Linked DNA regions of Homo sapiens: region 2 is linked to region 1. The links come from fine-mapping of genetic effects on gene expression. A gene starts in region 1. The other region holds a variant in brackets. All regions are shown on one strand. Distances are between the middles of the regions.

The links. PIP is the estimated chance that this variant, and not a neighbour inherited with it, causes the effect.
Region 2: its variant is fine-mapped to the expression of CEMIP2 in whole blood (INTERVAL, PIP above 0.99).

The regions. Positions count from the first base shown.
Region 1 is chr9:71,759,295-71,771,830 of GRCh38, reverse strand. It overlaps CEMIP2 (cell migration inducing hyaluronidase 2), which reads left to right and starts at 3,318. Exons shown (of 24, transcript NM_013390.3): 1 at 3,318-3,474. RefSeq lists enhancers at 2,297-2,978, 2,979-3,660, 8,585-8,729, a silencer at 2,554-3,223 and a cis regulatory region at 8,651-8,664.
Region 2 is chr9:71,675,303-71,689,891 of GRCh38, reverse strand. CEMIP2 (cell migration inducing hyaluronidase 2) reads left to right here. Exons shown (of 24, transcript NM_013390.3): 23 at 4,046-4,149; 24 at 4,499-6,526. The coding sequence ends at 4,695. Among named protein-coding and RNA genes, the nearest start is that of CEMIP2, 86 kb to the left of the region's middle. The variant A/TTA (reference allele first, on the strand shown) is at 4,497.

The sequences.
Region 1 (12,536 bases):
TTTGTATTTTTAGTAGAGGTGGGGTTTCACCATGCTGGCCAGGCTGGTCTTGAACTCCTGACCTCAGGTGATCCGCCTGCCTTGGCCTCCCAAAGTGCTGGGATTACAGGCTTAAGCCACCGTGCCCGGCCTTTCCTTTGATTTTTTATGTTCCAGATAAATATCTAAAAACAAAAGTTTATACAATTCTCAAAGATAGGCCACACACAGATTCAATCCCCCTACCCTTTTTTTTTTAGTTAACAGACTATATTTTAGAGCAATTTTAGGTTCACAACAAAATTGAGCGCAAGTGTAAAGAGGTCTCCTACACCCCTGTTCCCCACTAGCCCACTCCACTATCAATCAACATCCATTTCCCTTGGTTTGGGCAATAAATACAGATTGTGGAAATAAATAAGTCCTTTTTAAAACCAAAAATTTTATTAGACTAATGTATATAAATTTTTAATTGCTTGTTTTGTTTTGTTTTGTTTTTTTGAGATGAAGTCTCGCTCTGTAGCCCAGGCTGGAGTGCAGTGGCTCGATCTTGGCTCACTGCAAGCTCCACCTCCCGGGTTTACGGCATTCTCCTGCCTCAGCCTCCCGAGTAGCTGGGACTACAGGCGCCTGCCACCACACCTGGCTAATTTTTTGTGTGTTTTTTTTTAGTAGAGATGGGGTTTCACCATGTTAGCCAGGATGGTCTCTATCTTCTGATCTTGTGATCCACCTTCCTTAGCCTCCCAAAGTGCTGGGATTACAGGCGTGAGCCACCGCGCCTGGCCTAATTGCTATTTTTAACATTTGAGTGGTTTGCAGACTTGATTCCAAGAGGTTCTTACTGTGTGGCCTTGGGAAGACCCTTTAAATTTTCAAGTCCTACTGTCCCATCTTTAAAACGGAAATAATAATTAGTGGGAGGATTTAATTAGACAACATATCCCATAACATATCCTAACTCCAAGCAAAGTGCCTGGCACTTAATAAGGATTCAAAAAATGGATATTTGTAATATAAAGTTGGCCCAGCACAGGCCTCCTATGCTGCAACATATCACCCAAACTCAGTGTAGCTTACAACTGAAGTTTATTCTTTCACACTTCTGGAAGCAGGAGACTGCGCTCAGTTTCACTGGGCCAAAATCAAGGTGTCAGCAGGATCTTGCTCACTTCAGAGTTTCTAGGGGAGAATCCTTGCCTCTGTGCTGGCATTCCTTGCCTTGTGGAGGCATCGCTTCAATCTCTGCCTCCACAGTGGCCAGCCCTCCTCTGTGTGTGCTAACCACCCCCTTTCCCCTTATAAAAGTACATGTGACTGCAGTTAGGACCCATCTTGATCATCCAGAATAATCTCCCCAACTCAAGAAGACCCTTAATTGAATCACATATGCGAAGGCCCTGCTTCTGTCTATGTAAGGTAATATGCACAAGTTCCAGGACTTAGAACCTGTTATCTCTGGGGAGGGAACATTTTTCAGCCTAGCACACGGGTGACACAGTTTCTATCTTTATTAAGCACAATCCAAAACACCTTTGGACCATGAAAACAGTCTTTTGTCCCTTCCATCTTGTTATTCAAAACTATGTTCCTTATTTTAAAAACCTTTCCTCCCTGCCTATCCCAGAAGGGACAGCGGCTCTCAAAGGCAGCTGGGTGAAGTTTCTGTAAGATCTCAGCACTAGCTCGCGCTGCTGTTTTGGAGGCATCTTTCCAAGGCTTTAATTAATTAGAGGATGCATTCTAGCCCTGTTTCCCAAACTTACATATTCCCGATACCTCTGATTCAGTAGATTGCGCGACGTCTGGCAATCCAATTTTTTCTAAGTGCCCCAGGGGATTCTTATCATCAGCCAAGATTTGGAAACAGTAATTTCTTATACAAAGTCCTGAACTAATACCCTTGAAATAGGGGATTCCCCTTCACTGCCGGGTGTGTCGCGGTTACAGGACTGAGTTTGTTGAGGGAGGAGGAATGAACAACCCTGAAAACTAAACTATCCTACCTTGTATATTATTCACTGAAAGAGTTTCCTGGAGGGAAAACTTCCAATTCCAATTAAATCGAGGATGACGACGGCCCGGATTTGGCAGTCCTGCAGCTGTCACTAGCTCGGGACCTCGTGCGTCTGAGTGATCCAGCCCGGGCCGCGCCCTCACCCAGAGCCAAGGCTGTGAGAGCAGCTCCAGCGAGGGGGCAGGGTGGCGGCGGCAGGGCTGCTTCAGGGCCGGTGCCGGTGTCCTCAGAGCGGCGTTTTGGCACTGGGGTGGGCCGGGGCGTGGCTTTCGGCGCCACCTCTGCAAGCGGCCGCCACTCCAGAGTGGCGCAGGTAGGGGGCGTGGGAAGACCTAAGTATATTTATTCCGGCCTGCGAGCGGGATGCTGGGGTTGCTCCAAGGGACCAGAAGAGCTGCCCTGTGTCCCAGAGCAGGCTGGTTCTTCTGACAGCGCTGAGAACCTGGCGCTCGCGCCTGGCCAGGTAGGGGCTGTGACTGGACGCTCAGAACATTTGTGGGAGTGTGGAAATCTCTTTACGGGTGATGGGGCTCAAAGTCTGACGCAGCCGAGGGTTGATGGGGTGCAGTCACGCTCAGCCAGGGGACTTTGGGGGCGCAGTGTCAGGCTCAGCCAGGGAGTGACAGGCGCAGTACCAGCCTTATCTGGGGGTGCTGGAGGCACAGGCTCCGGTTCGGCCAGGCGGGTGTGCGCGCCCAGGAAGGGTAGGAGCCTGCAGCCGCAGCGGGGGGCGCTGGCTGGGGCTCTGCCCCGCCGGCAGTGCGCTCGGGCGCTGTTCCAGCGCGCGGCAGCGAGTGGCGCTGAGCCTCCGCTTTCGCAGCTCGCGGGGAGCGGGGCCGGCGGGAGGGGCCGGGCGGGGCCACCGCCTCCTCTGATGGCAGGCTCCTCCTCTCCCTCCGCCTCCCTCGCTCTCCACCGCCCGCCCGCCCGCCCGCCCAATCCACAGTTCCCGGCCCAGCCGAGCCGGGCTGCTTGTCTGGCCGGCGGAGGCTGAGCGCGACCCTAGCAAGCCGCGGCGCCCGCCGACCAGGGACAAGAGCGACTCCTGGGACCCCACTCTGCCCCGCGCCGCCGCCTCCTCCCCTGTTGTCGCGGGGACGCTCAGGCCCGCGCCGCCCGGGCCACGATTCTCCTCCTCTTTCTCCCGGAGGGGAAGGAACGGAGAAAGCCGAGCGGCGGCTCCGGGAGAGAGCGAGCCGAGGCCCCTGCCCCCGAGGCTCGGGGCAGGAGGAGGAGGAGGAGGAGGAGGCGGAGGCGGAGGGAAGTGCGCGTCACTCTCGGGAGGAGAGTATTTCACCTCCAGGCAGAGGCTGCGGCTGCCAGTTGAGTACGAGCGGCAGCTGCGGGCGCCGGCAATCGAGTGGCTTCCTGGCCATGGAGAGGAGATCTGGACCCGAGGACGCCAGGGACTCCTCTCCGTCTCCCTGGACCGCTGTGTAGGCACCTGAGTTAACGGACGCTAAGCGGGGTAGGGGAAGGTAAGAAGCGACTCGGTCACCCGCCCCCCCACCCCGCTCCACCTCGTTTGCTGCCCTCGGGGGCCACTGCGGGGACGCAGACCCGGGTCTCGCCCACCTTTTCTGCTCCCGGCGGCCTGGCCGGCTCCGGCGTTGGGCATTTCTGCCGAAAAGGAAAACGTCCTCCCGCCCTTCCCCCGTGCGCCTCCTTTCCCGGTTTCATCTCTGGATTGGGACTGACCCGACTCCCCAGGAGTCAGTCCTCTCTTCTTAAGAAAGGGTCCTCGGGAACGGTGTCTTGATTTCTTTCTCTCCACTCTCTCTTTTCATTACGTTTACGGGGAAGGGAACAATGGACCTTTCAAAGTCGGTGCGAACAGCCTTAAACTTTCTGGAGAGGGATGGGGTGAGGGGATAAACCCCACAGTAAGCCGATTACAGTGAAAGGTTGATGGAATGTGCTTTGCAGTCCGGGCTTCAGTGCGCGCGCGCTTGTGCGTTTGGGGTCATCTTTGTCTCCTTACAATTCCCCTGGGTTGGTGGGTCCTCCGCCCTCCGCCCCCTGCCTCTCTGTTAGCTGAGGTAAGGTGAGGCTTTAAAATCGTGTACAGCTTCCTTTAAATCTGGGGAATAGCCTTAGCCCTGGACCCTATTCCCAGCTTTTCTCTGCAGAGTTGGGAGATCCTGGTAAAGGAGGGGGGCCCTCTCTGTGAGGACCCAGAGTGCTGCTGTTAATAGCACTAGTGGCTACACCCTTAGCGATAAAACCAAGGTCCTGAATTCCCTGGATGCTCTCTGCTGAGGGTTGATGAGTGTCACCAGACTTCGACCTGGAGCGGAAACAGCTCACTTGAATTCTCCGCAGGTTAGGAAAACAGACTTTGATATATATCTCCTTTTATCAGCAGTTGGGATTAAGGATAGACTGCCTAATAATTTTTAAAACTTTCATTGTGCACATGAGCTACTCACTGCCTTGAGTTCACTCCCCTTGATTCAGTGTGACAGAGTGATGCGCTGCTGCACAGTTGCATGTATTGAGATGTGCTGCTCTTCCCGGTAAAAAGTGAGAAGAATTTAGAGAGAGGGGAAAGGGTAGAGGCTTCACCTGAGCTGAGGGAGGCCTGACTCCCCAGAGCAGCCAGGCAAATCTGTTGGAAATGGCTCAGTGTTAAAAAAACACCTTTAAAATGGTTAGCCTTATCTTTCTTTGGTTGGCTAGAATGGAGCTACTAATGCTTATTTGACCCTTGAAGGACGCTTGTTCTTTTCAGAATTGGTCTGGGTATCATACTGTGGTTGTGGGTCTGATTACCTATACAAAGGGTTCTTTTTAGTTTGCATTTCTGGGCAAAGCAGAAGAATGTGTAGTAGGCATGTCCTCTGCTTAGTAAACATTGGGTAGCACTTTAGAGTGCTTTTCTCTTCACACCGAAATGACTTCCCCCAGCTTCTGTGTACCTGCATTAGAGGATCAGTTTGGGCGGAACTGGAAATCTGTCTTCTGGCTTTCTGTTCAGTCCTCCTGACGCTGTTTTTTTCTGATGTATGTGTGCTTAAAGGCTCAGAAAACTAAGATTAGAAGCGAATTCTGAGTCATCACCTGTTCTTATTAACCTGTGAATGAGATAGTGAGCTGAGGACTCTCCTGTGTGTGGACAGGGAAATAGAATCTGTAAATTCTTACATGGTGTTTATCTGGATATTCTGTGTCACAGTTAATTATTTGAGTAGTCTCCTTCCTTGATCTAGTCTGTAACCAGTGACTTTTCAGAAATGTCAGATTCATAACAGGAAACCAGAATGGGGCAACACTTCAGTCATGTTCTAATAGGCCTAATCAATGCTGTCCTCAAACAGCTATCAAGAAAAGACAAGCTGGAGGGTAATGTAGTCTTGTGGGCCATTATCTTGAAGTTGACAGGGTACTGCTTAGAGCTACATGCTTTGGGCAAGTTTCTGAAATTGAGAAAGACAAGCCACATTTTAGAAAGAGGAAACTTAGGCCGGGCACAATTGGCTCACGCCTGTAATCCCAGCACTTTGGGAGGCCGAGGCAGGTGGATCACCTGAGGTCGGGAGTTTGAGACCAGCCTGGCCAACATGGTAAAACCCTATCTCTACTAAAAATACAAAAAAAAATTAGCCAGGTGTGGTGGTGCACGCCTGTAATCCCAGCTACTCGGGAGGCTGAGGAAGGAGAATCGCTTGCACCTGGGAGGTGGAGGTTGCAGTGAGCCGAGATCGTGCCACTACACTCCAACCTAGGTGATGGGAACGAGACTCCATCTGAAAAAAAAAAAAAGAAAAAAAAGAAGAAACAATAATCACTACCAAATTCATGGTCTTAGACTCACATGGAGTGCTGTATGTAAATGTGTGCATTGTGATGTGTGCTCTAAAATATGTATGAGCATTGCATCATTCACCCACCCACCATCCATTCAGCTAGCACTTATTAATCACCTATTGTGGTCCAGACCCTCTGGAAGCAATTGCAACACCTGCTTTGTGGAGCATTCATGTTGGTAAAGAGAAGGAGTTGAAGTGGTTGCAACCCGGGAGGCCACAGGGATTGAAGATACCTGTGTCACTTGCAACTAGAGAGATGACAATCTCTGCTATTGAAGAAATGAGCCTAGCCCCGGACATAAGGAAATGAACAATTAGAAGGTCCAATAAGTGCATGTCTGGGAGAATTACGCACAGAACGCTCTAAGAAGCCAGAGAAGGAACAGTTGGGGGTGGGGGAGCAATTTTGTGAGAAATAAAATTTGTTAAATCAGACAAAATAGTAGGGACTGAAAACTAGTGTCAGAAGTACTATCTTAAAATGGTGAAGATTGGAGGACTTGAAGTCAGACTTGGATTTAAAACAAGGCTTGGCACTTGCTAAACATTTGCTGTGGGCAAATCCCCTAATCCTTCTCACGTTGTTTCTTCACCTGAAAAAGGAGTTTTAAAATGCTTTATGGGAATGTTTTGGGGATTCAATTTGAGTAAGTTTGCTATGTATTAATATATGATAAAGTACTGTACAGGCTAATGCTGTCTGGTATCAAAAGGTACTTTCAAAAGTTTTTTAAAGCTATAAATAGATATAAATCATAGCTTAATCAGGTCTCAGCTACAGATTTTCATTTTATTGGCCCTTTCCAGAATGATCTGAATCCCATCTTGAGAGCAAGTCTTTAGACTTTTAAGCTAGTTACTGTCATATGGTATTGCTCTCTTGTCCAGGCTTCTTCCCATCCCAGCCACAGGAAATCTTTTCATTTCTCTTGGATTGTGAGCATTAGTGAGAAGAATGGGCTGTCTAGTACAGTACATCAATTGAAAAGGTCTTGTCTGGTTTTGTACGGTAACATCCATTCTCCCCTCTGCCTCCCAAGCCAAGCTAGCCCTTCTGTTTTCCTCTCTCTCAATATGATGAATATGGAAAAGGAAAAAAAAAAAAAGGAAGAAAAGCTATGCATCTGCCTTTTTGAGAGTATGAAAATCCCCATTACTAGTTTTCTCCATTTGTAAAGAGGTATAATTTTCATCTAGATTGTTAAAGTCTATTCTCTCAATAGCAGCAGCTGCTGTCTAGGCGAATCTGTTAGCAATACTCGCTTTAGTTCTCCACTTGAAATGGACTTAAGCCCATCTGACATTTTAATAAATTGCCTTTGATAGAAATCCAAACTCAGATATTTAAAACTATCAAGTGAACTGTGCCCTTTTGCCAGGGGTGCGGTGGGGAGGGGGGTAATGAATGTAAATCAGTTTTCTAGACACTGCTACATATGCTGAATCTTAGCATGTCGCTTGAAGGGACCTCAAAGATAATATTAAAACAAGGAAGTTGGGACCCAGAGAGGCTAAATAATTAGGTAAGGTCATATAGTAAATTAATAGCCAAGCAGGGACAAGAACTCCTTTGTCCCTGTTTCCAGTCAGCACTTTTTTTTTTTTCTTTCTCAGATATATTCTTATTTTATTCCTGTTTGGCTTTGTTAGCAATTTAATTAGTTTAATGATCAGATAATTTGTATTTGGGCTTTGAAAGTCACTGCTTTCAGGTTTAAGGCAGACACTATGTATATTTTTTCATTGCCTACTACTTACACATGATGGTGGGGTGATGTTACTTGTAACAAATTTCTGGGAAATAAGGAACTAAGTGTAAAAATAGCATTAGCTTTACTTGTATTTTCTATAAACAGGATGGAAATTTAAAGTACTGTAGATGTGCACATTTTTTAGAAGAAGCAAGTTCCTGGAAACCCTGTTCAGATTTGGCTTGTGAATCATAGAATAAAAGCATACTAGAATATGTTTGCATGTTCTTTTTTTTCTTCTTCAAAACTTATGGCTGTAGGTCATGTTTGCTTGTTCTTTTGTTTTCCTGGTACTTGCTTTGGGAAGCCTTTAATATTGGTTGTCAGGAACTATGTTCAGCAACTATTTTATTGCATTCCTAGGATGTGCAAGGCACTGTACTGGTTGCTGTGAGCAATACAGAGATAAATTAAGCATAGGGTTTTTATTAAAATGTCTTTAAAAAAAGTGAAAGACTCATAAACTGTATGTCTTAAAACACAGAATTGCTATCTCCCAACAAATCAGTCCTTTGATCTATAAGGCAAATCTGCTTTGAAATTGTTAATATTAGGGTAACCTAGTAACCAGATTTGTAACAAGACATTTATTTTCTTTACACGGTGAAAAGTGATAAACCTTTTTACATTTGTTGTATCAAGGGTCCATTGTAGTTTGAACAATAAGTAAAAGTTCAATATTTGATAAGAATTTTATGTGAAAAGTTTGCCTGGTAGAGATTGTGGCATTCTTAATCCTCATATTTTTTAATAAGGCTTTACCACTGGTTAGAAGTGTCATTAGGATGTTGTTGCCTGAAAGAGTTGAAATTTAAGACAATCCACATTGAGCCCATGAGAAAAGAATTGACCTCTGACTGAGTTTCATGTAAGTATCTTAAAACATATGAATATCCACTATAAATTTGATATCGTGGTCAGGTCAGATTAAGTCCCCCTCCAGTGTGAAATTGTTATCGATTTGGGGGCTCTTACTTAATTATTGGTGTGCACTTTGGAGACAGCAAGCCTTCTGTTGTCTTAATGGTCTCTGTAATGGTGATTCACTTCCCTGAAGAATGAATCATTTTTTCACATACAATGAAGTTTGGAAAGTTAATTATTAACATTTTAGGAATGGGAAAGATTTAGCTTAACACAGGGACATATGCCTGATTCCTGTTTCAGGAGGAATTAGAAAAATGAGTTCTTGAGGTTTTCTTTTTTTTTTTTTTAAGTTGTGGTTTGAAAAAACATAACATTAAAAAAATATATTTTTTTGAGACAGGAGTCTCACTCTGTCACCCAGGATGGAGTGCATTGGTATGATCACAGCTCACTGCAGCCTCCACCTCCTGGGCTCAAGCTATCTTTCCACATCTCAGCCTTCTGAGTAGCTGGGAGTACAGGCATGCACCACCATGCCCAGCTAATCTTTATATTTTTTTGTAGAGATAGGGTTTCACCATGTTGCCCAGGGTGGTCTTGAACTCCTGGCCTCAAGTGATCCTCCCACCTCAGTCTCCTAAAGTGGTGGGATTACAGGCGTGAGCCACTGCACCCATACTAACATTGCTTTTTAATGCCACCAGTGCCACCACTATAAAATCAACTTTATATGAGGATTTGAAAAATATGCTTGAGCAGGGCTTGGCTGAGTCTGAGGTTGGCTTTAATCTTCAAGTGTTTTTTCTTGCCTCCTGTTAGTGCTTGCAGCACTTGGGCTTGTCACGTAGCCCCTGTTTGCCTGTTATGCTGCTGCTAGCCAGTTTTTTTTTTTTTTTTTTTTTTTGGTGACGGGGCTGGCATGGGGTCTTGTTAGGTTACCCAGGCTGGAGTGCAGTGGCTCTATAGTAGTCCTAGCACACTATAGTCTTGAACTCCTGGGCTCAAGCCATCCAACTGCCTCGGCCTCTAAGTGGATGGGACTACAGGTGCACATCATTGTTCACCTCTTCCTAGCCACAGTGTATCCCTATTCGGCTAAGTGAAGTCCAGCTGCCACTCTAGTGCTGAGTAATTACTTGTTCATTAGAAGTTCTGCCTTTTGACTCTGTAGCACCCTTGAGTCTTGAGGAACATAGAGGAAACTGTTGAGAATGTGTAAGATGGCCCTTTTGTTTGGCTTAGGTTTCACGTGGCCTAGGAGGAGAGGGACTATGACTGTTTTATATTCTGGCCTGGAACTCACCTGCAGGTGACACCCTTTCAAAGAATATGAAAGACTTCTGTAGTGTGTCACCCTCCCCTCCCTCCCATACTTTTTAGTCACTATTGGGCAACGTGTCGTCATTTAAATGGCGGAGTTCAGTGGTAGACTTTAGTTTACACATGCAAAATAAGAAAGATATTAGTAATCGTCTGGTGGTGCACATTTGGGTGAGTAAATTTGCCAGGGCTTTTAGAAAATTAAGCTCTATTCCATTCATAGGGATTTAATAAACTCAAGCAATCACCTCCTCAGCCCACCTTCTTTGCCTCAACATTCAGTTTAATTACTTGTTTACTTGTGTTGTCTCCCTACTCTTTCTACCCCCAAATGCTGGGCTGTGAGCTTCTTGAATGTAGGAACCATGTTTATTTTTTGTACTATTGGGTCTCCAGTGTCTAGCAGAACCCTTTTCTCATAAGAGATGCTCAAAGCTGACCTTGTGCCCTGTTTGAAAAGGCTTTATTCCAAGTGGTTTAAGTTATATTAAAAATAGGCTATGTGTTACAGTTGAAAGAAATAGTCAACTTGGGTTCTGGTCCTGGCCCTGCCATTGATAGAAACTTTACTATGATGCTGGATTGAACAGCCTTGGATTATTTCAGTCTGGGCATCTCATTATTCATTTGAAATATTTCTAGTGTGAAAGGCACATCAAAACATACCCCTTCTGTTTCCTATTGTCATTGCATTTTGGTATCTGTACATCACTAGATCATGAACTTTGGCAGGTCTTTGCTTGTTTTTCAAACACATCCCTGTTGTCTTTTCATTTTTCCCACCTTTCAACATTTTGCCAACATAACTTTCTTGGTTTTTTCTTCCTGAGAAGTATTTTAATGCATTGTCTTTGGCCCTCTGCAGAGAATGCAGCCCACAGGCAGTTCTGCCCTTTGCTATAACCTTAATTAAATCAGCCTCTGTCAGGACAGACTTCGACTTTGGTTCTTTCTTTGGAAGGCCAGCTGCAAGGCTGGTGACGCGCCTGCACTTGCCATTGTGTGCCTCTGCACTGCCATCCGTCACTGCCAGCAGGTTGGAAGCCTCTCTTGAATCTTCCCAGCCAGTTGAGAACAAGGGCGAAGGGGGATGGTCTAGGATCACTGGGAAGGAAGGGAGAAAAGAGAACAGCTTTTCAATAAAAAGAATTAAGGAGAAAAAGAAATATGAGAAATATTAATAGGAAAAAAGGAAACCGAAGGGAATAGAGAATGACTGGTAGGTACAACGACCTTTTTCCCTTTTTTCTAATTTTCTGGGTTGAAGAACAATCTATCTCTCTGCAGTTTATCTTCTAGTTCTTTACTTCCACCTAGAGGCCTATGTACTTTGCTCTCTTTTTATTTTTATTTTTGGTTGCTCAGAGAGTGTTAGCTGTTCTTAATTGCTACCCTTCCTCCCCGCTTGGTCTGTAGTAGGTCTGCAGTTTTTTCCTTTTATGTTTTTCTTTTTTTGGGCATGATAATACATTTTAACCTTTTGGCCGTATCAGCCTCATTGGCTTTAGGGTCAAGCATTACTTCTCATAGACTTGTTTAACATCGTTGGAAAAAGATAGGATTAATTAGTATATTTGGGATCAGAAAAATTAGACAGCTGCCTCCTTTACCTTGCATAAATGACAGAAACATAGGAATGAATTTTAAATATTTCTTTAAAGTCATTTATTTCACTTTAAGAAGTTTTCACTTGGTTCACTTTTGGCATTAAACATTATAAATAGCAGCTCTTTGTTTTGAGGGATTCATATTTTAACAGGAGAGTCCAATGTGATTTGCCGAAGATGTGGCCACTTTAGTGAAACTGTGGCTAAGTTGCTCATCTGAATTCCTTAAATACAGACCATAGGCATTTCTTATTTTGTTATTATCAGGTTAAGCAAACTCTTAGTATTTATAGTTAATTTTTGTTTTTCCAGAGATTTATTTCCTAACTATAGTTTTTTAGTAGTTTTCTAGCAAAAAGACTATAGCTTAATACAAAAGTAAATTTTTAAGCAGGAAAATAAATCTTTCAACTTTAAATAATACTTATTCTAATCCAAAGCTTAGTATCTTTTTTTTTTTTTAAGTAAATTTAGTCTTTTTAGGACTATAGGTTTGAAATATTCTGAAGAAAATAAAAATACTTCACCGCAATATATGGCTTCCCTGGTAAAATGAGTATTTTAAATTAAAAGCCTTTAGAGATCAAAAAGTTCCTGGAGAGACTTTTCCCCTACTACAAAGATAGGACTGACCCCCTGCCATCCCCCCCCCACCTCCCCGTACCCCCCAACAAGGAGAACAATTATCCCTGCTTCTTTCCCTTTTATTTCATTATCCGTTGCAGGAAGGACCAAAAATCTAACCACATCCGAACAGCCCTATTCAAGATAAAGACTACCTCCACGGATCATTTAAATTCCAAAAAGAACTATCTAGAAGTCAATTTCTGTTTCCCCATCCAATCATTCTCCCTAGTAATCATTTATTCCCTCAATAGAATTCCTCCTCTTCTCCTTCCCATAACCTTTTTTACCAGGATCCAAGCCCTCATTCTCCCTGGAACCTCAGGATATCATACAACTTCTGTGCCTCATTGGGAAGTTGGGTTTTCCTTCTGAAGGCTCCCATGCTTACACATTAAATATGTCTTTTCTCCTGTGAATCAAACTGCCTCATGGCAGGGATTTTAGTGAACTTTCAGGGAGCCAAAAGCCTATGACCCCCACAGTTTCTTATACTTTCGCTGTATTATATTTTAATAGGTTTTTGGGGCAGGCAAGATTTTTTTTTTCTTTAAGGAAGGAG
Region 2 (14,589 bases), 83 kb after region 1:
GCAGAACTTGGATGTTGCAACATTTTGCAAAATGGTGGGAAGGCTCTTCAGAGGAAAAGAGCTCATTATTTGGAACATTACTATCCCACTTTTTATTTTATTTATTTTTTGAGTTTCGTAAAACAAATATCAGAGCATTATACTTTTTAGTATTAAGTTGATATACTTTGTCCACAACTCCCTCAGAAGGCTTATTACTATTTTGAAGTGATTTTCCAGGCAGTTTACCTTTGCAACCCTCTGTCGCACTGACGGTCTTGGACAGCATTGCACTATGATTGTGATACAGGAAGTCATCACCTGGGTCACTTGGAAATGACTGGAAAAGAGTAAATTGATTTTTGAAGTGGCTGAGTGTGCAATCGCTCTTACAGAGCACTAGTCTGATTGGTTTTCTTTGATGTCTCTGAAGAAAGCTGCACAGGAGAGAAACCTTTCTTTTTCTGGGTTGGTGAGACCCTGCCTGGAGGCAAGGAGATGAACTCAGGGTGTTTTCTGCCTTTGCCGCAGATGTTGATTTATACACCCGCTTTCATTTAATGGAACCATTAAGGAAGGAACTTAAGCTTTCCCCAAATTAAAGGCCTATCTAGCTTTAGAATCATTTTCCAATAGCTTATGCTTTATAGAACCGGATGCCAATAAATTCTATGAAGTCACTGGATTATTTGGATGTAACATTAAATGTATATATGTCGTTCTGTCTTCTGGCTTAAGACACTTGTACAGCCTCAATTTTCTTGCAGGATTTAAAGATTTTTCCTAATGTTGAAAATACATGCACTCACTTCCCCTAAAACAATCCAGGACATAAATCTCACCACAAGTATTTAGGACAACATGGTAGTCCTGCAAGGTACCCCATAGATTTAAGAGGTAAAACCAACTCATTAACAGAAAGGCTTTTAAGATACTGGTAATGCTGTTTCTTGATCTGCCTCTGGTTATGCAGATAGGTTTCGTTTGCAAAAATTCAGTGTGTGTGTAACATTTTAACAAAGTGTTAAGAAGGTATGGAGCAACTGGCAGTGACTTCTAGGGAGACTGAGCACGTGTCTATGTGTATAGGGTTGCGGGGTGACCTGTAAATGATCTTATGGGTAATTCTGACCTATTGAAGAAGGTCAGGTCTGCAGGGTAGCCGTGCTTAGACTGCTGCACTAATTTTAGATTGTGTCACCACTGCTTTAGAAAGACTACAGTAGGCCAGGCACGGTGGCTCACACCTGTAATCCTAGCACTTTGGGAGTCTGAGGCAGGAGGATCACCTGAGGTCAGGAGTTCGAGACCAGCCTGGCCAACATGGTGAAACCTCATCTCTACTAAAAATACAAAAAACTAGCCGGCATGTTGGTGGCACCTATAATCCCAGCTACTCGGGAGGCTGAGGCAGGAGAACTGCTTGAACCTAGGAGGCAGTTTGCAGTGAGCCAAGATTGTACCACTGAACTCCAGCCTGAGCAACAGAGCGCGACTCTGTCTCTAAAAAAAAAAGAAAGAAAGAAAGACTACCATAAAGAACCCATACCAGCATGAAACTTAAGGTACTTAATCTTAAGAACCATCGAGACCCACATTAAGACATACCACACAAATTTCAACTTCCTGTAGGTATCCTTGATGACTCTGAAAATAAATCAATCTAATGTTACCTTTTAATTAATAAGAGCTACTCAGAGCCCCCTAAACACTGATTTGTTCTTGAAAATTTTTGTTTCAGTAATACCGGCCAAGAGTTCAGGCACAGTGGCTCATGCCTATAATCCCAGCACTTTGGGAGGCCATGGCGGGACGATTGCTTGAGGCCGGGAGTTCAAGACTAGCCTGGGCAATGTAATGAGACCCTGTCTCTATGAAAAATTTAAAAATTATCTGGGTATGTGGGCACATACCTGTAGTCTCACCTACTGAGGAGGCTAGGACAGGAAGATCCCTTGAGCCCAAGAGTTTGAGGCTGCAGTAAACTATACTTGCATCACTGCATTCCAGCTGGGGTGACAGAGCAAGGACCCTATCTCTAAAAAAACAAAAGAAAACAAAAATAGTTGCCCAGGCTGGAGTGCAGTGATGTGTCCACAGCTCAATGTAGTCTTGACCTCTCAGGCTCAAGTGACCCTCCTACTTCAGCCTTCCAAGTAGCTGGGACTACACGTGCACACCACCAGCCTGGCTGGTTATTTTTTGTTTTTGTTTTTGTTTTTAATTTTATTATTTTTCTAATTTTTTGTGGAGATGGAGTTTTGCTGTGTTTCCCAGGCTGGTCTTGAACTCCTGGGCTCAAATGATCCTCTCATCTCAGCCTTCCAAAGTGCTGAAATTAAAGGCATGAGCCACTGCACCCGGCTGGCCAAGAACATTTCTGATTAAAGTTTTTGAAAGAGTGAGTTTGTATGTGTACACACACACACACACACACACACACACACACAGAAAATAAATACATTATTAAATATATTGCTAAAGGATATGCAACAGAAGTTGAATAAAAGGAGAGACTCTGTTTCTGAATGGAAAATTAATAAATGTTAATTTCATGGACCAGTTTCATGGAAGATAATTTTTCCATGGACTGGAGGTGGAGGGGGATGGTTTCAGGATGATTCAAGTGCATTACATTTACTTAGTTAAAATATAAATTTGACACATTTCCATTAGTGTCCCAAAAGGTACTTTTCTACTGTACTTGACAGTTGATACTGTAGTTCATCTGGAAGAATAAATGAGAAAGTAGTAAAATATAAACAAATTACAGTAATACAAGGGCTTGTTTTTATCAAATATTAAAATGGACCGTGAAGCCATAGGCCAGCATAGTTTTGGCAGAGAAGAGCAAGATCAGAGAAGAACGGAGAATCCACAGATAGGTCCAAGTATGTATGTTGGCTTACTATGTGACAAAAATGGTAATTCAAACCATGGAAAACACATTTAGTCGTTTATTTATTTTTAGAATTGTGTTTATCCATTTATTTAATAAATAGATAATAGAACTTAAATAAATAGAGTATTTGAAACAAAACAAAACCATTCTCCCATGTTACAGTAGACTTACTCCCTGATAGACAATGGAGAAGGAAGGGTGAGGGGTGGATGACAGGAAATTACTGAATAGGCACAGTGTACATTATTTGGGTGATGGATACCCTAAGTGCCCTGACTTCACCACTATGCAATCCTATGTATGTAATGAAATTGCACTTGTGCCTCACAAATTTATACAAATTATAAACAACAACAACAACAATAGACTATTCCCTAAAAGAGCTGTGCCCCAGACCATCCACTAGGTCAGCAGTCCCCAGCCTTTTTGACATCAGGGACTGGTTTCATGGAAGATAATTTTTCCATGGACTGGAGGTGAAGGGGGATGGTTTCAGGATGATTGAAGCACATTACATTTACTGTGCACTTTTTTTCTATTATTATTACATTGCAATATATAATGAAATAATTACACAGCTCACCATAATGTAAAGTCAGTGGGAGCCCTGAGCTTGTTTTCCTGCAACTAGATGGTCCCATCTGGGGGTGATGATCAACAGATCATTGGGCATTAGATTCTCAGGAGCACACAACCTAGATCCCTCACATGTGCAGTTCCCAATAGGGTTCTGCTCCTATGAGAGTTGAATGCCACAGCTGACCTGACAGGAGGCGGAGCTCAGGCTGTAATGCAAGTGTTGTGGGGTGGCTGTAAATACAGATGAAGCTTCGCTCGCCTGCTCACCTCCTGCTGTGCAACTTGGTTCCTAATCTACTGGTACCCATCCATGGCCCAGGGGTTGGGAAGCCCTGCACTAGGTGAACGTACGTAAATGATTTGGTTTATGTATGCGTTACCCCTTGTAAGAGCAACGTGTGAAGCCCATGGTGGTGGGGTGGAAGAGTGGGAATTGGATGGAAAATCATCTAGACTTTTTTCTTTTTGGAGTTCTGCTTTTATCTAATATTTCTATTCAGCAGTCAGTTCAGAAAGATACTCAGTAGAAAGATACTCATGCTGAAGGATTGAAATTGGCTCTGACTTTCTAAATTTCACATACAGGTCCATTGTTCTGTTGAGCACAAGAGGAGAAATAAAGCAGTTAAACATTTCACACTTACTAGTACCTCTGGGATTAGCCAAACCAGCTCATCTTTATGACAAAGGTTTGTATTTGTATTATTTCATGAAGTTCTTACAGGGCCAGCAACATAGGTAATTTTATGGTGCAATTCAGCTACCAGACCATTTTCATGAGCTTGTTTGCTGGAGTGGGTATCATTAAGATGATTTCTAAATAAGGGCACAATGTGAGAGGAAGTGTGTTGGGATGTGGTTTGTTATCTGGGGCAAAAGGTGGGTGGTGAGAGTTCATTTGCTGATGTAAGGAAGTGCAGAGTTTTTTAATAGCTGCCTTTGTTTTGCTCACCTCCGACTCACCTCCTATATTCTCTTGCTGGAATGTAGCTATAAAAATTGATTTTTTTTCTTTTTCTTTTTTTTTTTTTTTTTT[A/TTA]GGGAGTACCATATTTTTGGGATTCAGTGGAAACTTTAAACCATCATGGACTAAGCTATTTACCAGTCCTGCTGGACAGGGCCTTGGGGTGCTTGAACAATTCATACCTTTGCAGCTGGACGAATATGGTTGTCCCAGAGCCACCACTGTCCGCAGAAGAGACCTGGAACTGCTAAAGCAAGCTTCAAAAGCACATTAGAGACTAACTGTAACTTAAGTGCTGGGGGAAAAAAAATGTGAACTAACTTATTTAATTTATGGCATTTTAAAATGACACTGTTAACCCAACGGAACCATTTTCCAGTTTGATACAGAATGGGGAGAAAAGAAAGCGTTTGAAATTATTGCTTGGATACCAGCTTCATGCACCTTCTAGTTGTACAAAATGTTAAAGACGTTGTTTGTATTTGTAAGGCTGGTGTATTCAGAGAGCAGATCTCTTATTCCTCACTTTCCACCCCCGTATTTTGTAATGACCATGAGCAATGTTTTTACTTTTTGTATAATGGGGTGGGGTGGAGTGGGGGCTTCTGAGAGTCAGCCTGAGGTCTTTAGAGGACCAGCTATTGTAGCACCTTGGATACTTGAAGTTTAATGCTCAGTTGGGTCGGGTGGCAGTTGACTTGGTGGCTGGCATGTTCAGCAGTGCCTGGGGCCCTGTTTCTGGGCAGCCTTTGAGGATTTTCTATGATATTGAATGACAGTTTTAAGTGGCAACTCAGGCCCAGCTCATGCCCTTTTTTGCCTGGACATGTGCTATTTTTATTCACTTATATATCAATTACTTGTAAGGGTTAAACTTTCAAACAGGAAGTATATTGGGACAAAAGGGCTCTTGGGGATTAGATATCCCTTTAATCTGTGACCATTGGGCAAAAAATTTTCCTGCAGCAAAAGTCTGAGGCTGTTGGGACCATTTTTGCAGCTTTAATCCTTAGCCTCTTTTGACTGTATATTTGTGTTTAAAATGCAGAGCTCAACTGAATATTTCCTTTTTTGTTTTGTTTTGTTTTGTTTTAAGAAGTAGGTTGTTTTCCTGAACCGTAAACTTGTATCATTTTAACTTGCACAAAGGAAGTCTGTTCTTGGTATTGCTCTTGCACTTGGGTTTTTTGTTATTGTTTTGTGTGGATTTTTTAAAGCTTTTCTGTTCACCCTCCTGCCAGGAAAATCCCAGAAAGCTTAATGATACCCCAAAATGATTACACCCAGGGAGGAAAAAAAGGAGCGCTTTCTAGGGTCAGAATCGTGGAGAGAATACTCAGAAATGAACCTCTTTAAAGCCTTGCAGGAATGAGTCACTCTTACTTAATGAAATGTTAAAGCCAATTAAAAAGCATGCTGTGATGCCCAGCTTCCCTTTCCACAGGGTGCATGCGTCTCCTGCTGGTGAATCACATGCGGCAAGAGGCAACTGGCTCCACAGCCTGGGATGCTGCCGTACCAAGAGGAAAGAAGCAGCAAAATGCCTTTACGTTGTTCTAAACCCCCGACGCATAAAGTGTAGAGGAGGGATGGCCAAGGGTGGGTGGTAGAAAGTGTGTTCAGGCTGACACTGGCAATGAGTACAGATAATTTCACTTTCCTCTTCTAGGGGCAAAGGCTGATGGCCTCTACCTTTGTATCCAGGAGAAACTGCAGAGCAGCCCTGTGACTTTACAAAATATGCTACCTCAAAGTGCTACCGATAAACCTTTCTAATTGTAAGTGCCCTTACTAAGGGCACATGTCTTAATCAAAGTTAGTTTTTTGTTTTCTGGTTTGTTTTTTTTTTTTGTATATTGATGAATGAGATCTTACCTATTAAATATATTATTGGATTATGGTTCCTGAAGGTCATTAGAGTGTGTGTGTGTGTGTGTGTGTGTGTGTGTGTTTTATGACTTAAATATCTTTACGTGTGTTTTTTAGAGCTTGGTTCTTTAAAGATTTGGAGAAGATATGTAAATTACCAAGGCACTTGGTTTTTCTGTTTTATATACTAATAATCAGGGCCTAAGTTAAATAAAAATATGTGTGCATGTATTTTATATATGTGTGTATGTGAATTTATTTATTATTTATTTTATTATTATTGTTATTATTTTTGAGATGGAGTCTCGCTCTGTCACCCAGGCTGGAGTGAGGTGATGCAGTCTCAGCTCGCTGCAACCTCCACCTCCCAGGTTCAAGTGATTCTCCTGCCTCAGCCTCCCAAGTAGCTGGGATTACAGGCACCCGCCACCATGCACTGCTAATTTTTGTATTTTTAGTAGAAGTGGGGTTTCACCGTGTTGGCCAGGCTGGTCTTGAACTCCTGACCTCAAGTGATACTCCTGCTTTGGCCTCCCAAAGTGCTAGCATTACAGGCATGAGCCACCGCGCCTGGCCTGTATGTGAATTTATATCTCTATCTATAAATTTAAAATTCCAGATTCCAGCTGTAAAGAAGTTACTGACGGAAGTGAGGAAGACACTTGGTGGACAGAATCCACCAAGTAAATATTGTAAGAGTAAGCTTCAGAAGGGCAGGGACTGTATTCTCCAAGGCAGAGGTTCTCCATCTTGGCTGCACACTGGAATTACCTGAGGAGCTTTAAAAAAAAATATAGAGGCCTGGACTTTACTCCCTTCCCCCCAGATTCAGATTTAATTGGTGTTGGGTGCAGCCTGAGCACTGGAATTTTTTTTAAAGCTCCCTGGATGATTCTAATATGCAGCCAGGTTTCGGAACCACGGCACTAATATAATAGGCCCACTGTTTAACTCCAGTCTGTAATTTTTTTGTGACTAAAACAAAATTGCATTTACCTATTATTTTTATTTGCATTTCCTATATTACTCACAAAACTCCCAGCCCTAAACAAAGCATTTCTCTATTGTCTCTTTTTAATAGAAGCTTTTAATACAGTTTTTAGTCCTCAGTCCTCTCAAATCATTAAATTGGTTCTATACACTGATATATACATTTCAGGGAATTGGGAGCTAGCAATCTGTTCTATTTCTACCAAGAAAATATATTCAAAGGTGATTTATAAGTTCATAAGCATTTTCCATCAGGTGAGGCAGTTGGTTGAGCTCCAAAAATGTGGTCGTCCACAAATCAGCCAGCTGACGAGCAACACAGAGGGCTCTCATGTATCCACAGACTAGGGTTTAAGTCTTTGCTGTGATTCCTGCCTCTCCACCTGAGTCAGCATGCCATATATTATCTTCAGAGGCTGGAAGAGAGTGCTGGCAAGAAGATGAAAGGCAGACGCACCATCTCATGGACTATGACTGCAAAGCAGCCTCTAAGCTGATGTTTAGACTCGGGGATGGGAAGAGAGGATTTATGACTCCTCTGTTCTCTAACTTCATCAAGAGACAACACATCCTCATGCCATTAAAGTGGGTTACTTTGTCTTGAGGAGGGGAAGGTAATGAAGTGACAGATCGAGGCTTGAGTGCTTTAGATAACTACAGTAGGTTTTCATTCCTTAAGAGATGAGGTCATGTTTGGATGTGTCTGGTTGAGAAGCATTTCAGTAAGAAGGAATGAGCTTAGTTAGTTCAAGTGTTTTTTTCTGTTGTTCCTAGTAGATAAACACAATACATAGATTCAATGATGACAATGTTTGTTAATTTCATCATGCAGAGTTGGAGCTTACTTCTGGAATTCTTATTTGGTTTCCAGATACTTATTAAACAATGTTTAATAACCTGAGAAATTCCCCTGGAGGTAAAGACCTTTAATAGGGCAGCAGATTTGTATCATTACTGTTAGTTATGATTACATTATTACTGTTATAACCCAGTGTGCTGGAAATGTGAGCAGACACTATTTAAGCTAGTTTTCAACAAAAGGTCATGGAGGGAAAAAAAATAAAGGAACTCCATTCCTGGTTCCTTGCTCACAAATGGCAAAATGCTGTTCACAGACTTGCTAGACCATTTGAGTCATTTGGAAGAGAAAAGGTTTTTTTGTTTTTCCCTTATTTATCTTCAATTTGAGAAAAAAACTAATAAAAGGATGCTTCAGTAGGCCCTGGTGTTGTGGATAAGGGCACGCACACTTTTTATTTTTATGTGGTAAATTTAGAGAATGACTGACTGAACTGTGATTTCTAAATGAGGAACTGTGCCCCACAGGACATCCAAAATTATCAGCCATAGCAAGCTGTGAACATGTTATATCTGAAAATACAGCAAAGGGTGGACCAGAAAACATCTTTATAGATGTGTTTTTGTAATTTTCCTAAGAGGGACAAAATAATTAGTCTAAATATGAAAAATTAAGTTTTAAAGTTCATCCATAGAAAAGCTGGCTTCATGATCACAATTGAAAAATCCGAGTTGGCAAACCTCTGCCTGCAATTCTGAGCTAGGAATCATTTTTATGTTTTTAAATATAACAAAAGAAAGAAAAAGAAGAGTAATATTTTATGTGGTGAAAATTCTATGACATTTAAATTTCAGTGTCCATAAATCAAATCTTATTGGAACACAGCCAAGCTCATTCTTGTATACTTATTAACTGTGGGCAATTCCTGCTGCAGGGGTAGAAATGAGTAGTTGCTACAGAGACTGTCAGTCCAAAAATATGTACTGTTAGGCCCTTTACTGAAAAAGTTTACCAACCTTTGATCTCAGTGTAGTGTAGACCAGCGTTCATTGTCCTGTTCTTGGAACCTTACCACATTGTCAGAATTTTTTAAATAGCAACTTAAGGAAGAAACCTGCATCAGAATCGCCTGAGGTGCTTGATGAAAATGCAGGATCCCAAGCCCCAGCTCAGACAGGAGAACTGGCGTTTCCAGGAGTTGTGAAGCTGGGAATATTATGTTATAACAAGCTTTCCAGATGTTTCTTGTGAACACTAAAGTTTGACCATCTCATAGCATGTAGTGAGGCTGTTCTTCCTTTCCCTCTTTCCCTTCAACAGAGAACACATCTGAACAAAATTGATTTTTTTTAACCTTAATGATTCTATCTACACAGTCTTCCCTAGAACTTTTTCTGACTAGGGCAGATTTCATATTGGGCAGAGTATGTGGCTGTTACTGGGGCAAAGGTTTGGAGCCCGTGATTAAGTCCTCCCGCCATGATGCCTGAAATACCACTACAATGATTCCTTTGGCTACAGTTATTCCTACTCTGAAATCCCAGCCATTCTTTATTTTCTGCAAGTTTGTTTTATTATTTTAAGGATTTTGAAGGAAAATGTACATTTGGCCACAATTAGGCTGCACAGACTAACAAAAACATAAGTTTATTTGCTTTTTGATGAAACTATCCACCCTTTTTACTAATTTTACATTTATTGAAGCTCTGATTGATAATTTCAGATGTATTTTTTTGTGAGGTAGAATGAATCATTTCATACAAGCAGTTTGCTTTGTAAGCAAAAACCTTTTAATGCATGAACTTTATGGAGGGCTGCAGGAGGTGGCTGAGTAGTGGATAATGAGATTGACCCTTGCCAGGGAAGAGGGTGGGTGTGGGAGGTTCACCTTCTCCCATCAGCCCATGTTGATTGTCAACATCCAGTTCCTGAGGGAGGAGCGCCTGGGTCAGGTAGGTTTCTGATGTGGGAGAACGCAAGACTTCCAAGTCTTAGGAGGCAAGAAACATCCTTAGCTCCCACTATGGGTAGGAGAATGAGAGAATTCCGATGGGAGAGAAAGATGACAAAACTTGTTGACTCTTTCAAGAGTGCATGCAGTCAGTTGTTTTTTAAGTAAAATAGTTCTTAGAGGAAGTGAAGTGGAGTCAGGGTAAAGTGTCTGATACAGTTACTTGCTGTAGGTATGGTTGTTTTGCTGACCAATCTAGGTTTGATTCCGCTAAGGCTCTCTACTTAGCGGTGGTCCTAGGAGCAGCTTCCTCCTGAGCCTCAGGTTTCTCATCTATAAAGTGGATCCATTAGTAACTTTTGTGAAATTACAGGGGGGATTAAATGAGAACAGCTGTGGCTCCTGAACATGGCTGGTCATCAGAAACACGTGATGGTTTGTTTTCTAAAAAATTAGATTTCTAGACTCCTGTGAATTCTAATTTAGTAGTGTTTTTGTTGTTGTTGTCTTGAGGGTTAAGGATTAGGGAATGTGGATTTTTAAAAAACAAACTTCTAAGATTATGCCAGTTTTGGGAACCACTGAGGATACCTGATGCAAACCCTGCCCTAGTTTCGACACACTCTGTTGCTGTTACTTGTATCTAGAAAATGAGACCTCAGGCCAGGCAATACCCATTTACTGACTTGGTTTGAACATCACGAGGTTTGCATTCATGCTCTTAGTTGCCCTAGCACCATAACTCAACAAATCAGCTGTGTACAGACTGGAGCTATGAAATGTGGAAAACAAACAAACGTGGAAAACATGTGGCTTTACCCTGTTCTGCTGCTAGTATGTATAGTTTTTAGCTCTTCATTCTTGTGAGAGGAAACTTTAGTTCAGTTAATAATTTGTCTATTCTAACCCCTCTGTACCATAAACTAACAGGGATCAGAAGCATCTCATTTCTAACTATCTCTCAGGTTTTTTTTTTTTTTTTGAGACAGAGTCTCGCTCTGTCGGCTAGGCTGGAGTGCAGTGGCACGATCTCGGCTCACTGCAACCTCTGTCTCTCAGGCTCAAGTAACTCTTCTGCCTCAGCCTCCTGAGTAGCTGGGATTACAGGTATGTGCTACACGCCCGGCTAATTTTTGTATTTTTACTGGAGACGGGGTTTCTAGTTGGCCAGGCTGGTCTTGAACTCCTGACCTTAGGTAATCTGCCCACCTCGGCCTCTCAAAGTGCTGGGATTACAGGCGTGAGCCACCGCACCCAGCCCACTATCTCTCAGTTTTTTAACCACACACAATTTCACTTTTCCTTCCTATCAAGTAGGAAAAAATGCTAACATGTAGTGAAATGGTTTAGAGCTAAGGTTCATATAACAAGCTGAGCTGAGTTGAAGGACTTGGAAAATGAGTGCCTTTGACAACAAACCTTCCCGTGTTTCTGTGCCCCATTTCTGCTTAGTCACACCTCTGCCCCCTCCCAACTGCCCAAGTTCCACTCCTGTGGCCCTTGTTATACTGGAAGACCACATTCCCAGAACTGTTTCGTAACTCATGCTCCACTGCTGCTCACATGTTTTCTTCTAACCCTCAGGATCCTCAGCCCTTGCTAAAGTATTTCAAAATCAGGTCAGTCCTTATGTCTAAAACAAATTGTCTCTTGGGAGACAATGTGATTTTAAATATCTGCCCACAGCACCTTATAGTTCTAAAAGTAATGTGTATCTGGAATTTTTGTTGACATATCTGATTTGTTGGCTTTTAGAGGACTTTTGCCCTCCAGCAGCATATCGACCTCCATATGAGACTGATTTCGTCTGTGTGTAGAGGAAGTTACAGATCTGGAAAATTCACACCCTGGAGAACTAGTCACTGGGTAGTGAAGTCAGTACATCTACAGGATATGAGTATTTGTACTTGAGTAGAATCCCTTCTGATTACCTTCCGGAAGGTCATGGATTATACTGTGATTTTCCTCCAGCTTAAGCAATGTTCTCAGAACACAGATACTAGATGAGAAACAGTACCTGGCTCTGAAACATATAATCTACTCAGATTCCAGGCCCAGGGTCCTGGCCACAAGAAAGCATGTTTATCCTAACATCTTCCTGGAAGCTGTGCTCTGTGAGCACTGGAAAATTCTTTCTTTTTGTAATGTCTTGCATTTCTATAAGTCACCTGTTTTAATAGCTAAGAGGAAGAGATTTGTTAATTATAGCTTTCCTTTGTTGCAGCTCTATATTGAAAACATATGCCAGAAAAGTTAAGGAAAGATGCAAGTGGATAGATGATACATAAACAGGATTAGGAATCATGAGGATTAGGGGCTTCCTGTGCAGTTTTTTCCAGGAACTGACCCCAGGAAGAGGGTCAGTTACCAACATAAAATTATTTTTGTGAGGGGAAGGTGTGATTTTATTATATTGATTATATTTTATTTTATAATCAATATATTTTATAATCAATATAATTATTGATTATATTTTATTATATAGATTATATTGATAATCTAAATTTTCTGGCTGTTGTTTCACATTCCTTGAAATGAGTCAATTTGTTGATTTCAGTCATAATTTACTGTAATATTATCTAAAATAATTGGATTTAAAGTCGATAACAAGTGTAAGTGTTGGATATTTTGGAGAGTCAGATTCTAAATTAAGAATTTAGTATTTTTATTGTTGCTACCTAACACAAGAGGCTCTTTTTATTTGGTGCTAACTTTATCTGTTTACAGAAGACAAGTGGCTAATATGAAGCATAAAGGTAGCGAGTTTTAGACTTAAAGAATGGTAACATTGGAAGTAAAAAATGAGGAGGAAGAACAGTGACTCTACCTTGGTTTTCTTTCAGTTTTCCTACCATCTCTGCTCTTCCACTAGCAGGTCAGAGCCAGTGGACTCTATCTATTCATTGAATTTCTGAGTGTGCTTCAGTGAGAGAATATTTTTCTAAACAAATTCTGCCCTCCTTGTTACTTTGTGTGTATGTGTGTGTGTGTGTTGCTCTCATAGTCTGAGAGTTCATTTGTTGTACTAATGTAATTATCTTGCTGAGGGCTACAAAAATAATGTTACACTGGTGTGTGTGGTAGGTAGACTCCTGCTTCAAGGGAAAAGTTAAATCTGTTAATTACCATGGGGAAGTTAGCTACTTAGATATACCCACCTGCTTAGTATGAGTTTCTAAGTTTAGAAGGAATGAGGGCTTAGCTTCTCTCTGTGGTCAGACTTCTGTGAGTCAAGTTGCATTGAAATGGGCTGTTGAATAGTGGATGTTAAGGTTTCAGGTACCACTTGGAAAAAGAACAGGTTATAAAGGGGAGGCTACCCTGTATTAAAGAATATCATCTTCCCTGGACTCTGGCATTCTCTTTTGTTTACCAAAGCCAAGGATTATGTTTCTTAAAGTGAGGTTTATGGCCAATATCCATCAGAACTATGGAAATTGCAGATTTATGGACTCCATTCTAGGTGGATTGCGTTAGAATCTTGGGTTGAAACCTAGAAATCTGCCCTTCAACCTAACTAGTGGAATGAGTCAGAGAACCTGGAAATGATGTGTGACAAAGATGGCATTAAAAATCAGCATGTAAATGATAAATTATTCAATAAATAATGTGAGAAAAATTGGTTTTCCATATGGAAAAAAATGTGATTAGATCCCTACCTCACACCGTGAAACAAAATAAACTCCATCTCACATGAAAAGTATATTCATCCCAGTAGCCCCCAAAGTTTTACCTGATTCCAGCATCAACTTTAAAATCTAAGTCCAAAGTATCATCTAAATATAATTCAAATCAGATATAGGTGAGACTGAAGGTATGACTCATCATGGGGCAAATTATCTCCAGCTGTGAACCTGTGAAATCAAATATGTTATGTGCTTCCAAACACAATGGTGGGACAGGAACAGGATAGACATTTCCATTCCATTTGTAATGCCATCTTTGTCACACGTCTATTTCCAGGTTCTGTGACTCATTCCACTAGTTAGGATGCTTATTTAAGGGCAGAAGAGGGTAATGGTTCCTGAGCAATTCAAAACCTTAAAGCTTGAAAATAATCTTCTTTGACTCGAGGCTCTTCCTGCCAGTCCTAGCGGGGTTGAAGTTCCCCTTTCTGAACCCACTGGGGCATGGCCTTGCCCTCATGGCTTTGAGGAGCCCCATTCCCATGGCAGTTCTCTTAATGGGGCTTTGAGCAGGCCCCATCTCCATGGTGGCTCCTTGCCTGGGTCTTGAACCTGCAGCTCTCCCCAGATATAATCATATGCCAGTGGCTCTAACTGTTGGTCTCAATGTGGCCATGCCCCCCATGGCTCCACTGGGAATTGCCCTAGTGTGGGTTCCCTGCAGTGGCCCCACCTCATGGCTGCTTTCTGCCTGGGCTCCAGGCTCTCCAGGTCATCCTTTGAAATTTAGGTAGAGGGAGCCAGACCCTTATAGCTCTGCTGGGTGTAGTGCATATTGAATCAGGGCCACGAGAGCCACACCTGGGGCAGTGGAGGAGCATGGTGACAAAGTGCAGGAAGCAGAACCTTGAGGCAGGGCTGGGCAGAGGGTGC